Homo sapiens: one gene and its partners. The protein of the gene in region 3 purifies or fractionates together with the protein of the main gene of each other region. This does not show direct contact. Each region holds a gene or a part of one and is shown on either strand. Other genes may lie near its edges.

Evidence for each region. Proteins that work in one complex are often made in the same cells at the same time.
Region 1: the proteins of IGFL3 (region 3) and LOXL3 purify together in Homo sapiens (affinity purification with mass spectrometry; one large-scale study listed by BioGRID and IntAct). This does not show direct contact.
Region 2: the proteins of IGFL3 (region 3) and LCLAT1 purify together in Homo sapiens (affinity purification with mass spectrometry; one large-scale study listed by BioGRID and IntAct). This does not show direct contact.
Region 4: the proteins of IGFL3 (region 3) and FBLN1 purify together in Homo sapiens (affinity purification with mass spectrometry; one large-scale study listed by BioGRID and IntAct). This does not show direct contact.

What each region holds. Positions count from the first base shown.
Region 1 is NC_000002.12:74,534,351-74,536,942, forward strand, and holds part of LOXL3 (lysyl oxidase homolog 3 isoform 1 precursor), read right to left. Parts: intron 2,579-2,592; coding exon 2,359-2,578; intron 2,122-2,358; coding exon 1,941-2,121; intron 1,801-1,940; coding exon 1,646-1,800; intron 1,406-1,645; coding exon 1,238-1,405; intron 1,105-1,237; coding exon 942-1,104; intron 425-941; coding exon 181-424; intron 82-180; coding exon 1-81. UniProt on the Homo sapiens protein: Protein-lysine 6-oxidase that mediates the oxidation of peptidyl lysine residues to allysine in target proteins.
Region 2 is NC_000002.12:30,520,246-30,523,745, reverse strand, and holds part of LCLAT1 (lysocardiolipin acyltransferase 1), read right to left. Parts: intron 1-3,500. UniProt on the Homo sapiens protein: Exhibits acyl-CoA:lysocardiolipin acyltransferase (ALCAT) activity; catalyzes the reacylation of lyso-cardiolipin to cardiolipin (CL), a key step in CL remodeling.
Region 3 is NC_000019.10:46,121,889-46,125,859, reverse strand, and holds the start of IGFL3 (insulin growth factor-like family member 3 precursor), read left to right. Parts: upstream 1-1,171; 5' UTR 1,172-1,210; coding exon 1,211-1,235; intron 1,236-1,538; coding exon 1,539-1,592; intron 1,593-1,703; coding exon 1,704-1,974; intron 1,975-3,971. UniProt on the Homo sapiens protein: Potential ligand of the IGFLR1 cell membrane receptor.
Region 4 is NC_000022.11:45,505,883-45,509,382, reverse strand, and holds part of FBLN1 (fibulin-1 isoform D precursor), read right to left. Parts: intron 1-3,500. UniProt on the Homo sapiens protein: Incorporated into fibronectin-containing matrix fibers. May play a role in cell adhesion and migration along protein fibers within the extracellular matrix (ECM).

The DNA.
Region 1 (2,592 bases), on a different chromosome or scaffold from region 3:
GCTTTGTGGCCCTCAGCCACCTTGGTGCCATTTGGGGTGAGGATATCATAGTGAGTGAAGATGTCCATGCTGTGGTAATGCCTGTGGGGAGAAGGGAACTTCTGTTTCCTTCTCTGCCCCCAGAAGGTTTGCCCCATCCCCCGTGGTCTTGCCCTTCTACTTGACTCCCTACCCTCTCACCCATGGCACTCGTGCCACACCCAGGAGTGGCGCCCAGCCTTGGGCCTGAAGTCAGCTCGTCCCAGGTTGTGGATCTGGGAGGAGAATCGGAGCAGACGCCGGTGACCATAGGGCCAGTTGGCTGAGCGGGCTGAGCTGGCCAGGCAGTTCTCTTCCGCAGCACAGTACAACATATGCAGGGGCCGGTCTTCGATGTAGGCGGTCTCCTGCACCAGTGCTGAGTGCAGCAACAGATCTGATGCAGCTGCACCAAGAAAGGAAGGGGGTGTTAGAAGTCACTGCTGACTTCACAGAGAGGGGTGCTTCCATCCCTCCCTAGTGTGTAAGACTAGTTTTTTGTTTTTGTTTTTGTTTGTTTGTTTGTTTGAGATGGAGTCTCACTCTGTTGCCGAGGCTGGAATGCAGCGGCGTGATCTTGGCTCACTGCAACCTCTGCCACCTGGGTTCAAGTGATTCTCCTGCCTCAGCCTCCCGAGTAGCTGGGATTATAGGCGCCTGCCACTGCGCCTGGCTAATTTTTGTAGTTTTAGTAGAGACAGGGTTTCACCATCTTGGTCAGGCTGGTCTTGAATTCCTGACCTCGTGATCCATCCGCCTTGGCCTCCTAAAGTGCTGGGATTACAGGCGTGAGCCACTGCACCCGGCGAAACTGGCTCTTTTATGGGGAAGAAGTGCCCCTCCAGATTACAGCCCCCTTTCCCTGCAAACGGGTGGCCCAGACACTCCCTTCCCTGGCATGCATCACCCCCTCCTTCACTCACTCTCAGAACAGATGACTCCAGCAGTGAAGCGGGTCCCTGTCCTCTTGCAGGTGATGTGGGTGCCATGATGGGCACACTGATCCAGGGACAGCTCAGTCCCTGTGCAGCGCACTCCACTCATCACCACCTCTGTTATATTCCCAGAGTCCCAGTACCAGGTCTCCTGGGGACATATGCAGATGTTTCTGTAAGGCCCAGGATCCAGCATCTTGGGCCAAGGGACTCATTCCTCAGCCCTCTGCCCAAAACACAGGCTTTGAGACAACAGCCTCGGCTCCCCTTTCCTTCCCACTCACCTGCAGGCCGTGGTTGGCGTAGCCCAGACCCAGTTGCCTACAGGCCACCATGGCCTCCAGGGTCCCCCAGTCATCCCCACAGATGAGGCCCCAGCGAAGGGGCCCAGGTCCCCCTATTTGCACCTCGACTCGCCCCTCATGTTGGCTGCGGCCCCCACTGAGTCGGATCTGTAGTGACACAGAATGGAAGCGCTGGAGAAAGCTTTGGGGTGAGGTAGTGGGAGTCTCTAACAGATGTGGCTGAAGCGTGACTCAGGCACATAATGGGCTAGCAAGTGATGGGTCAGGTGGGAGCTGCAGGAGGGCAGGGGCCTGGGGCAATGGGCTGGGGGCCATTGGACTGTAGATTGGAGACCAGACCTGGATAGGATGAAAGAGACCTCAACCAAGGTAGAGAGGATGACTGACCCTGGTCTCTGCCCCAGTGTAAGGTAGGTTGCACCGGACCCCGGCATCCTGGCTATGTGAACAATCCTCAGCTGTGATGTTCTTGTGGGGGCACTTCCAGAGGGAGAGCTCCTGTCCAGAGCAGCGAACTTCACTCAGGTGGATAGCACCCATGCCTAGGGCCAGATGGCAAAGATCAGGAAGTTGTAATTAAGCATATATTGTCTGCCCAGGGGACACCTAACCTTCCGAAGGAATATGCCCCCCAGGAGCATGTACCTCCTTCCCTCTCCCTCCCACCTCCATGCCACCTCACCCTGCCCCATGCGAGCGCCACTCAGAGCTTCTCGAGCACTCCCGAAGCCCAGCTCCCGACACACCACGCTGGCTGCATGCAGGTCCCACTTGCGGTCACAGACTGTGCCCCATGTGCTGGCCTTCAGGACTTCTACCCGGCCCTCTCCAGGGTGGGCGCCGCCCTTTAGACGGACACGGGCCTATAGAAGAGAGAAGTGCCCAACAGAGGCAAATGGCAACATCTGCACGGAGGGCTAAGCAGACCTGGGAGATGAGTGAGACTTTGGTGGAAGGGAGTGGGTGGTATCAGGTCTGTGGCCCACCCCCTGGAAGGCTCCTCTCTGTCCTCAAAGGTCAGGGCTGTGCTTAGTCTGGGGTTGCCAGGCTAGGGGTTCTCCACCTGGGGTGGGAAAGGTCATAATCACTGTCTCACACACCTCCCCCTGAGGCTTCGACTGTTGTTGCTTCTTCTGGCCACTGGATGCCGCGTAGACAGGGCCTGGCACACAGCTCACCACTGCAGGGCCCCCCCCAGGGCACCTGGCGGTGTCATTGGCACGATAGAACTCCAGGGAACAGAGGGAGAGGTGGGCCTCCGTGCCCACGCACGCCACCCCATGCAGACCAAAGGAGTGTTGCTGCCGTTGGGCTAGCAGCCTAGGGGGACAGGA
Region 2 (3,500 bases), on a different chromosome or scaffold from region 3:
CAGACACGCGCCACCACACTCATCTGATTTTTGTATTTTTAGTAAAGACACGGTTTCACCATGTTGGCCAGGGTGGTCTGGTTCTCTTGACCTCATGATCTGCTCGCCTCAGCCTCCCAAAATGCTGGGATTACAGGCGTAAGCCACTGTGCCCAGCCGACTATTTTTAAATTTCTACTGATACTTGACAGTACGTGTACAAAATCCTTCAAAGTACAAACTGAATAAATATCAACTAAGAGCTGGCTTTTTGCTAAACTCTAGACCTAAACTTTAAAGAAGTGGGGTAACGGAGTAATAATGGTAGAGAAAAAGGCCACTGGAAAGCAGCATGCTGAACAATTCCCAGAGCTCACACATGGGGCCTAGAGTGGTCTGTGTTACCACCTATCCTCAACTTTGTTTTCTCTGAGGCTCAGGTCCTCCTCTTTGCGTTGATGACACTATAGCTAGCTTCTCCCCAGAAAAAAAAAAAAAACCTACGAACATCTTAATTTGGTATTGTTAATGCCTACTTCCTTTTATACACCCACCCCGCCCCCCAGTCCTGCAACGCTGCTGCTCTGTTTGAAACCCTGTAACTACCGTTTTCTATCTACTGTTTTTTTTTCTGCCAATTAGTGATTAGCTAGCTCTGTTTAACACTCACCCCTCAACTCCCTGCAGAGCTACACTTCACGTTGTATCCATATATAATGCTTCCCTTATCAAGGCTCTGGCATGCTTCTTCCTCACCAATTTCTGATTTGATGTGATTAACAGAAAAAAAATAAATTAGCTATCATATAATAAAATATTTTCATTATGCAGTGATGAAGCTGAGGCTCAGGAGAGTTAAGAAGACTTTCCTAAATCCACACAACAAATTAGTAGCATCAAATCTTTTCTGCTTACTGCTTCTTCTGCTATATCATGCTCTCTTTCTCCTGCGAAGGGGCCAGAAATTAGCCCTGAAATATGTCTCTAAACTCAGACTTAAGCAGGTAGAAAGGTGTGTGTCACATGAATATACTGGGATTACTCAGACCAAATCTAATCTAAAATTACTTCTATCCTACTTCTATTCCTTCCCTTTCAATCATTTGTTGATTTTCAATGATTCAATAAACATACAAAGATATCCCAATTACCGTGTGCCAGGCACTATGTTAGTCATCTGGGGATTACAACAGTGAATATGACAGAAATTGCAAAGCTCTCACAAATCTGATGGTCTCTCCATCTCTTCCTTATGAGCTCCTATGTGACTCTGCATTTAATCCAGCCCTATTCTTTATCTTCTTCCAAGTCTCAAGAGTTTGATGGACAAACTTGGTTCCAAATTATGCTAGCTATACACTTATTTGGAATAGCTAAAAAAAAAAATTTTAAAACAATAAAACCACTGACAATACCAGGAGCTGACAAGGATATGCAGCAACCAGAACTTGCAAACATTGCTGGTGGGAATGCAAAATGGGATGGCCACTTTGGAAAAGTTTGGTAGTTTCTTAAAATCCTAAATATACACTTACAATAAAACCCAGAAATTCTACTGAATATCCAAGACAAATGAAAATGTATATTCACACAAAAACCTATACGTAATTATTCACAGCAGCATTATTCATAATTACCAAAAACTGGAAACCAGCCAAATGTCAGTCAGGGAGAATGGATAAACAAAACCGTAGTACATCCACACAATGGCATACTACTCAGAATAACGACAAACTACTGATCCATGCAACATGTTGAGTTAATCTCAAATGTATTATGCTGAATGAAAGAGGCCAGACTCAAAAGATATGATTTTAAAATCTTTTACTGGATTATTTCATTTATATGACATTCCAGACAAGGCAAACCCAAAGGATAAGGAAACAGATCAGCGGTTGGCAAAGATTACAAGTAGGGAGATGGTTTGACTACAAAGAAACAACACAATATAAGTTTAGGGGGTTGGTCCAGCGGTGGCTCATGCCTGTAATCCCAGCATTTTGGGAGGCCAAGGGGAGCAGATCACGAGGTCAGGAGATCGAGACCATCCTGGCCAACATGAGGAAACCCCATCTCTACTAAAAATACAAAAATTAGCTGGGCATGGTGGCGCGTGCCTGTAATCCCAGTTACTAGGGAGGGTGAGGTAGAAGAATCGCTTGAACCTGGAGTCAGAGGTTGCAGTGAGCCAAGATGGTGCCACTGCACTCCAGCCTGGTGACAGAGTGAGACTCCCTCTCAAAAAAAAAAAAAAAAAAAAAAAAAAAAAAAAAAGAAGAAGTAGTTTAGGGGGTTGAGGAAACTGTTCTATTTCCTAGTTAGGTCACATTACAGCAAAGCTGTCCTGATCCAGACCCCAAAAGAGAGTTCTTGGATCTCGCCCAAGAAAGAATTCAGGGTGAGTCCACGGTGCAACCTGAAACCAAGTTTATTAAGAAAGTAAAGGAATAAAAGAATGGCTACTCCACAGACAGAGCAGCCCTGAGGGCTGCTGGTTGCCCATTTTTATGGTTATTTCTTGATGATATGCTAAACAAGGGATGGATTATTCATGCATTCCCTTTTTAGACCTTATAGGGTAACTTCTTGACATTGCCCTGGCATTTGTAAACTGTCATGGTGCTGGTGGAAGTGTAGCAGTGAGGACCACCAAAGGTCACTCTTGTCGCCATCTTGGTTTTGGTGGGTTTTGGCCAGCTCCTTAACTGCAACCTGTTTTATCAGCAAGGTCTTTATGACCCGAATTTTGTGGTGACCTCCTATCTCATCCTGTGACTCAGAATGCCTTAACTGTCTGAAAATGTAGCCCAGTAGGTTTCAGCCTCATTTTACCCAGCTCCTATTTAAGATGGATTTGTTCCAGTTCACACATCTCTGACAGTCACAAGACTATACACATTTGTGAAAATCCATAGAAAGTATATTTTTTAAAAAAGTGAACTTTACTGTTTGTAGATTTTTAAATAAATTTTTAAAAAATTATGCTATGTATATAAAAATCTGACAATATTTACTATTCTCTTATAATACGGGGAATTCTAATTTTCTGGATTATTTCAACTATAGTAACACCTAAAATGTATATAGCTTTTAAAATATTTCAGGCACTGTTTCATATATTTTACATGCCGACCTGTTCACCAGTCACAGCAATCTCATAATGTAGGTATTTTCATTACCTTAATTTTACATATAACGATACTGAGGCAGCAAGGGGTTAAGGAACTTACTTAAGGCTACACAGCTAGTAAATAACAAAACTGGAACTTTAAGCCAGGTAACTTGGTGTCAGAGTCCACACTCAGTCTGAAATGTTACACTACGCTTCCTTTTCAAGCCATGTATTACATCTGTAGTTAAATATACACCTATTTTTAAATAGCCTATAAAATAAAGATGTTACAATTATAAACTAAATTTTTAATACCTCATACAAAACTTATTCTGAATTTTAGAATTTATACAAACTTAGTGAGATAGCCTTATGTCTTTCTTATCTTACTGTTACTGGCAGGTGTTTG
Region 3 (3,971 bases):
TGTATTTTACCTAATCAAACTCAAACGTTTCTTTTTAACATTTGGTAGTAAACAAGCTGACAGCCTGGGCTCACTAGGAATCTTCACATTGTTGGCCTTCTTAGGTTCCGGGGTAGGGGAGAGCAGCCTTGTGCATCCAAACCACACCCCACACCTCCGCACATGTACAGGAAGCTAAGAATGAAGCTCAGAAAAGGAGAACCATTTCAAAGGCTATGGTACAGGCTGGATGAACTTAAGTCAGCAACTCTTCCCTATGCTGTGCCAGCAAGTGGAGGATGGAAAGTCTGGCCAATCCTTAGACATTTTCTGATTGAATCATCACACATCCATGAAGACTGAGGTCCTTTCCACAGCTTCGGGATTATTTGAATTTGTCCAAGCCCTTCCCTAGCTGGCACTTGCCTGGCAGGCCTCAGTTTGCCCTGCCCTTCCCTCTGTCTGCACACCTAAGTACTACACACTCCTAAGTACTACATCACTTATCATTGGCCACTAATATAATATGATTATGAAAAGCAGGTGTTTAGTACTTTCCCTGACCATGTAACTAAGATGCTGGAGGTCTCTGAATCCTCACACCAAGCACACCAGGAGATTTGGGCCATTGCTATTCTCCACCCCTACCCCCTTTATTGGAGTTTCCAGAGCCGTGGCTCAACTGCTAGAGCAGGTGGCAACTCTAATGACTCCAGAGCAAAAAATAAAGTGGCTTCATAAACGGTCCCCTTGACATTTCCAGAGACATCGTGCTTGGGGAATATAGAAGAAGCAAGTATTAGGAAGGGGAGGATGTGAAACCAGATGGGGAAGTGGCTGAAGCATTCTCTCTGATTGGAGCTTAGTTGGGCACTGTCTCCTCAATGTCGGAGCTTGAAAACTCTTAGAAGCCTAACTTGGAGTAGGACCAACCTACACTCATTCACCCTGAGGTCTGCAATAGTATATGGAGAATGCAATGAGTCAGTCTGCAACATTCGGCTCTGTGGTCCCTTACGCCACCCAGTCTCCTCCTTAAAGAAACTAATGAATGTGCTTGGGAGACTTTGGTTATCTTCAAGGAATGTGCTTGGGAGACTGCAGGTGGCATGATCAGCAGCCATCCAATCAGTAAACTTACCAGGTTAACAGACAACCCCATTTAGGCTGTCTCCATAAGTTCCAGCCTTTTACCACTCTTCTTCAATTCTCCTAGAGCATCTTTGGAAGCATGAGGCCACGATGCTGCATCTTGGGCAAGTAGGACCCCAAATCCAAACATCATCTCATCTCATTCCCAGTGCAGCTCCCAAACCTCAACCCGATTTATTCCTCTTTATCTCTAACATTATTCCAGCCTCCTGTGCCCTACTAGTCACCTCAAAGGGTGACTGAGCGTGCTGCTCAGGGCCTGCCTGAACGGGATCCCATACAGACTTAGCCCCAAGTGATAATCTCCACCTTTAAACCACCCTAACCTCTGTTTGTTTGTTTGTTTGTTTTTTCCATACTTGTCACATTCTCAGCTCCATGTTCAACCTTTTTCCTTTCTCCCTTAGCTCTTGTCTGCTGGATAACAGTCTTCCTCCTCCAGTGTTCAAAAGGAACTACAGGTAAGGACAGGACAGGGAAAAATGAGGAGGGAAGAGGTGGTGTTGGGAAAAGAGACTGGGAATTGAGTATCTGTTCTTCCTTGGATGTACACCATCAATGTCTGCCCCCAGACGCTCCTGTTGGCTCAGGACTGTGGCTGTGCCAGCCGACACCCAGGTGTGGGAACAAGATCTACAACCCTTCAGAGCAGTGCTGTTATGATGATGCCATCTTATCCTTAAAGGAGACCCGCCGCTGTGGCTCCACCTGCACCTTCTGGCCCTGCTTTGAGCTCTGCTGTCCCGAGTCTTTTGGCCCCCAGCAGAAGTTTCTTGTGAAGTTGAGGGTTCTGGGTATGAAGTCTCAGTGTCACTTATCTCCCATCTCCCGGAGCTGTACCAGGTAAAGGTCCCTACCTTGCTCTTAACTAAAGGAATGAGGGAGGGATGAGGGATACAGAGGGCTTGAAGAGGAACTCCTGTTTGTGGAGTTCTAACGGCAAAAGAGTCAGGCTGGTGGCAGCAGGGGAAAGCAAAAAGAAGAAGCAGATAAGCTATAAGTCTGCCTTTCTTCATGGTCGAGGACAAACAGTCCTCCTGCATAAATAACTCACAATCTTCTTGCACCCAGCTATCACCAGACACTCAGCTGGTAGAAAAATGCAAGCAGTGCAGTTGCCTTCCTGATGTAAAAAAACATGCTAAATAATCCAGTGTCAGGAAGACAAAGATGTTTTGCTTCTCTGAAGAAGCTTATAATAATATACAGTATATGTATATGCAGGGAACAATTGGTCAAAAGTGGCTTTTTTGTTTCCCCAAGGGGAAAGACTGGCTTTGTAATTATAATTTTTTCCTTACTTTACTTAAAACTGGTAGAGTCTAAGTATTGTATGAAGTGTCCATGATTCTGTCAGTAAATTTGAGCATATTTTTATTAGTTAATGTCAGTTTAAGTAGTCCTTTTGTTTCTATTTTTAAGATGAATTTTAAATTCTATCTGAAATCAGTAAGATACCTGGAGAAAAACTGCAGTGAGAGGAGGTCAGTATCCTTTTTCAGGAGGAACTGATATCTCTGGCTAAATATCTGTCCTTTTATTATGGTTTCTAAATCGGTTATTTTCTTCAGCTTTAAGTTCATAAAATTAAAAAAACTATTAAAAAATTCCTGTAGCTGTTGGAATAATTAAAAATTCTGGTGCAGTGGTGGTATACCAATCTTTAGAATTCTTAAGTAATCTAATGTTTCAAGTTGAGGTCATGCTTGGGAAAATCATGTCATAGCATTTACATTATTTTCAAATGTCATTTTTTTTACCCTGGAAAGAAGTAATAATGTTCATCATAACCCTAGCAGTCTGGATAGTGAGCTAAACAAACCCTTGGAAGATTACATTTTAATCAAGTAGACTAGGAATACAAAAAACAAGTCCTTCCTCCCCTTCCTCCCACCTTTACAATCTTACTGGAAGGGTGTTCAGAAATTAAAATTTGTGTTTGCTAAGACTTTATTCTGTTGGGGGTTTTAAGAGGTAATACGTGTAATGTAAAATGTATGTAAACCATTGCAGTTTTTTGGGGCATTTTTCCATGCAACAGTAAGTTGTCTGACAGTAACCGAATGTAACTTACAGAAAGTAATTAAAAGTTATATTCAGAATAACAGCAATCAGGCCTTGGATGTTCTTTATTAAACTCTTTTCAGGCAGTAAACTTTACCAAAAAAATCTGTCATTTTCTAAAGTCCTTGTGCTAAAACTGTTGACTATGGAAAACAAACAACAAAAAGGAATGTTTTTAGTCTGCTGCTATTATTAACATTTATTATCTGTATCTTTTGGCTCAGGAAATGACTTCACCTATTTGTTCCATAAGCTGATCTTTAACAGGGTCAGCTAGCTAACTAGGCTGTGTAAACAGATGTGCTGGGAGAAAATTATAATATTTAGTATTTGTCCTAAATATCAAAAATATTTTGACAAGTTTCTTTTTAAGATAGTTTCTAAAACCTTACCCTGGCTAAAGATGTTTTGTGCAAATTATATATAGCCTGCCTGATCTACCAACATGGCACAGAGAATCACAATCAACAATGTGGGGAAAGTCAGGGCAATGGAAGTGGATGTACACTTTTTATTTTGAGGGCTTCAACCAAATTGTCTTGGAATTAAAGGTGTATTTCTGCAGCTTTCAGTACAGAGAAAAAGAAGAAAGTGAAGCTGTGTCAGTTTTAACATTAGCTATATCACAGCATGTTTTAAAAAGATAGATGAAGTCATTTGCATAAAGGTACAGCATTGAAATACTATGTTGTGTTTGTTTTTACATTTTTACATTTTAAAAATGCAGTAAAAGCCAAGTTAAATTTCATTAAAAAAGAAATATGCAAATCAGCTCA
Region 4 (3,500 bases), on a different chromosome or scaffold from region 3:
TGAACCAGCCGGGAGGAGGCAGCAAGAGAGAAGGAGCAGAAGGTACCTCTCTGGGAAGGCGAGAAGCATTCTCCCCACAGTTCCCTCCAGGCAGCTCTGGCCCCGGCAGCAACTTCCTACATCAGCCCAGTGCACAGAGGGGCATCCTCATCCTTCTGCAACATCCCACCCTGCTCCAAGGGCCTCCTGGGCTTCCAGGACGCATCTCCCCTGGTGTTCCTCTCACCCCTCTGGCCACCTGTCATGCATCCTCTGCACCTGGCATTTGGAACCTGGAGCTTCAAAGGCTGGAGGGTCCCAGGACGCTTGCTCTCCTCAGGCCAGCTTGTTCATGCCACACCAGCTCAAAGGTCCCTTCCTCCAGGAAGTCCTCCCTAACTACCGCCAATGCACACACATATGCACATATACACGCATGCACATGGGACAAATATGTTTTCTTTCTTGCATGGTCTCTTTGTACTCTGAGCTTCCCAGCACTTAGCACAAATAATTAACTCTGTACTTAGTGCCATGAGTCTGAGCCAGACACTGTCTCATTCTGCCTCCTGCCCCCATGCCTGCCCTAAGCAGTCATTCAATAAATGTCCGTGAATGAATGAACGCACAAATGATCTCACATGATCCTAGGTATTCTATAAAGTGGGGGCAAAGAGAGAATCACCAAGTTGCCCGAGGCCATGCAGCCTCTGCAGAGGCAGGCTTCAGATCCAGCTCTGACTGTAAAGCTCATACACACCCCACCATCACACTCCAAAGGAAACAGGCATCCCCCCCTGAACTAGACTTAAAGATTCAAGTCTTCTAAAGGTGCGTGAGGCTGGCTGGGCGCGGTGGCTCACGCCTGTAATTCCAGCACTTTGGGAGGCCAAGGTGAGCAGATCACGAGGTCAGGAGTTAGAGACCACTCTGGCCAACATAGTGAAACCCCGTCTCTACTAAGAATACAAAAAATTAGCCAGGCGTGGTGGCGGGCACCTGTAATCCCAGCTACTTGGGAGGCTGAGGCAGGAGGATTGCTTGAACCTGGGAGGCAGAGGTTGCAGTGAGCCAAGATCACACCCCAGACAGTGCAAGACTCCGTCTCAAAAAAAAAGATACGCGAGGCTGTCCAGTGTGCTGGTGAGGGGTATGACGTCAGGGCCAAGCTGCCCAAGCTCAAGTCCTGCTGCTGTCACTTAGCAGCTATGCACCCACAGTCTTGCTACCTGGACTCTCTGGGCCTCCATGTCCCCTCATTGATGAGGGGGACAATGACAGCACCTCCTTTGCAGGGCTAGGGTGAGGGTATAGCTAGGTAACACAGGTGAACTGGGGCAGGGGTGGGGCAGGAAGGTGCTCGAGTCCCCGTGCTGTGGGGAGACCATGCTGGGTGCACAGGTGTTGGATTTCCATCCTCAACCTATCACACGCATCAGTGACTCTCAGAAATGGCACTGTGCAGGTCCATAGAGGAGTTCTAGGCCAAAACAAGAAGCCGGGCTTCATACCTAGGTAGCAAAACTCACAGGACCTTTTCACTCCAGTGGGTAACAGGATCCAAAATGAAAAACAGGGCCAGGCGCAGTGGCTCACGCCTGTAATCCCAACACTTTGGGAGGCCGAGACAGGTGGATCACTTGAGGTCAGGAGTTCAAGACCAGTCTGGCCAACATGGTGAAACTACATCTCTACTAAAAATACAAAAATTAGCCAGGTGTGGTGGCGCATGCCTGTAGTCGCAGCTACTCAGGAGACTGAGGCAGGAGAATGGTTTGAATACAGGAGGTGGAGGTTACAGTGAGCCGAGATCACACTACTGCCCTCCAGCCTGGCCGGCAGAGTGAGACCCCGTCTCAAAAATAATAATAAAAAATAAAAATAGGTTCAAAACAACACTGGATCACCTATTTCGTAGGGCTGCTGAGATGACGACATTGGTTACTAAATGTAAAGCATTTCACCTATAATAATTACCCAGAGGACACTCACATCTTATAGTGAAGGAAACAGAGGCAGAGAGTTTGTGGGTGTCATCAAGATCTCTCCAGACACTTTCAGAATTGGGACCAACACACAGCTTCCTAACCCCCTTCTCATGTTGGCTCCGCACAGTGTAGTAACCCGCAAATAACCTGTAGGAAGCTATGGCGACTGGTGCCTCGCTCCCTCCCACCCCAGCCTCTAGTTAGGACCACTGTGGGGTTAAAGGAGGTGGGGCCCAGCCCAGCTCTAGGCCCAGCCCCAGCCCCGCTCCTCGCTGGGTGACTTGTGGCAGATGACTTAGCCAGTCCTGAGCTCCCCTCCAGCCTGAGGGGGTCTCCTATCCCAGGGAAGTTGACACAGTGGTTCCCCCCTCCCACCCTGTTTACTTATAGGGCCACATGTGAGATCATCACAAGGAAACTGGAACCATATGGGGCCTACGAAAGGATTCATTCATCAAATTGTTATGATTTGCTATTCTGCAAAAGGAAAATCTTGTTGTATAAAATATGCTGGCAAAATAACTACATGCCCTCTTAGAACTGTTCTAATAAACTTCACCTGGAAGGCGGCCCTGACCAGGTGCCCAGTGCTCAGAGCCCGGGCTTAAAGTCTCACCAGGTCAGGGAAGCTGCTGGAGAAGTCTCTAGACAGCACAGTCTCCCCCAGTGGTGAGGAGGGGGTGGAACTGGAAGGAACTGGAAGTGGGTAGAAGGAGGGGGTTTCCCTGGAAGTCTCGTGTTTTCTCTTCCTTCCAGGTATTTGGCCCTGCCATTTCCCCTGCCAGGAACACCCTTTCCCCCATCCTCCCAGCCCTACCCACAGACTTAGCCACTGCCTTTTCCTCCTTAGGTTCCCAGTTTGCATGCCGCTTCCTCCGGGAAGTCTTCCCTGACTCTGCCAGTAGGGCTCAGTTCATTTTTCTGGATCTCCTAGTTGCATGAGGGGGAAAAACTGGGTCTCTCTCCTTTCCTGCCACATCCACAAGTTATAGAGCAGTGTCTGGCACTGAGCTGTCCCTTAGTGAATGAATGACTGAATGGCTAAGAACACCACCTTTCCTGACACGGGTTTGGCACTGACGACTACCAGTCCTATAGCCCCATGGGGCCTTCTGCTCAGCGCCTGGCTGGGAAATTCAGTAGTAGTAGAATGTGCAGAGGCATCTTGGGGAAAACAATTCTGGGGTATTGGCAGAATTGCGCTCTTCCCGCGCTCCCCTCACATCAAGCCTCATCTCCTCCAAGGAGCCGCCAGGGAGCCCCCAAGGGCTGCGAAGGCTCCTGGTGCCAACACTTCCTAGAGAAGGGGACAACAGGAATAATAGCTAACATTAATAACAGGGCTGCCAGCCGGCACGGTGGCTCACACCTGTAATTCCAGCACTTTGGGAGGCCGAGGTAGGTGGATCACCTGAGGTCAGGAGTTCGAGACTAGCCTGGCCAAGATGGTGAAACCCCATCTCTACTAAAAGTACAAAAATTAGCTGGGCGTGATGGGCGCCTGCAATCCCAGCTGCTGGGGAGGCTGAAGCA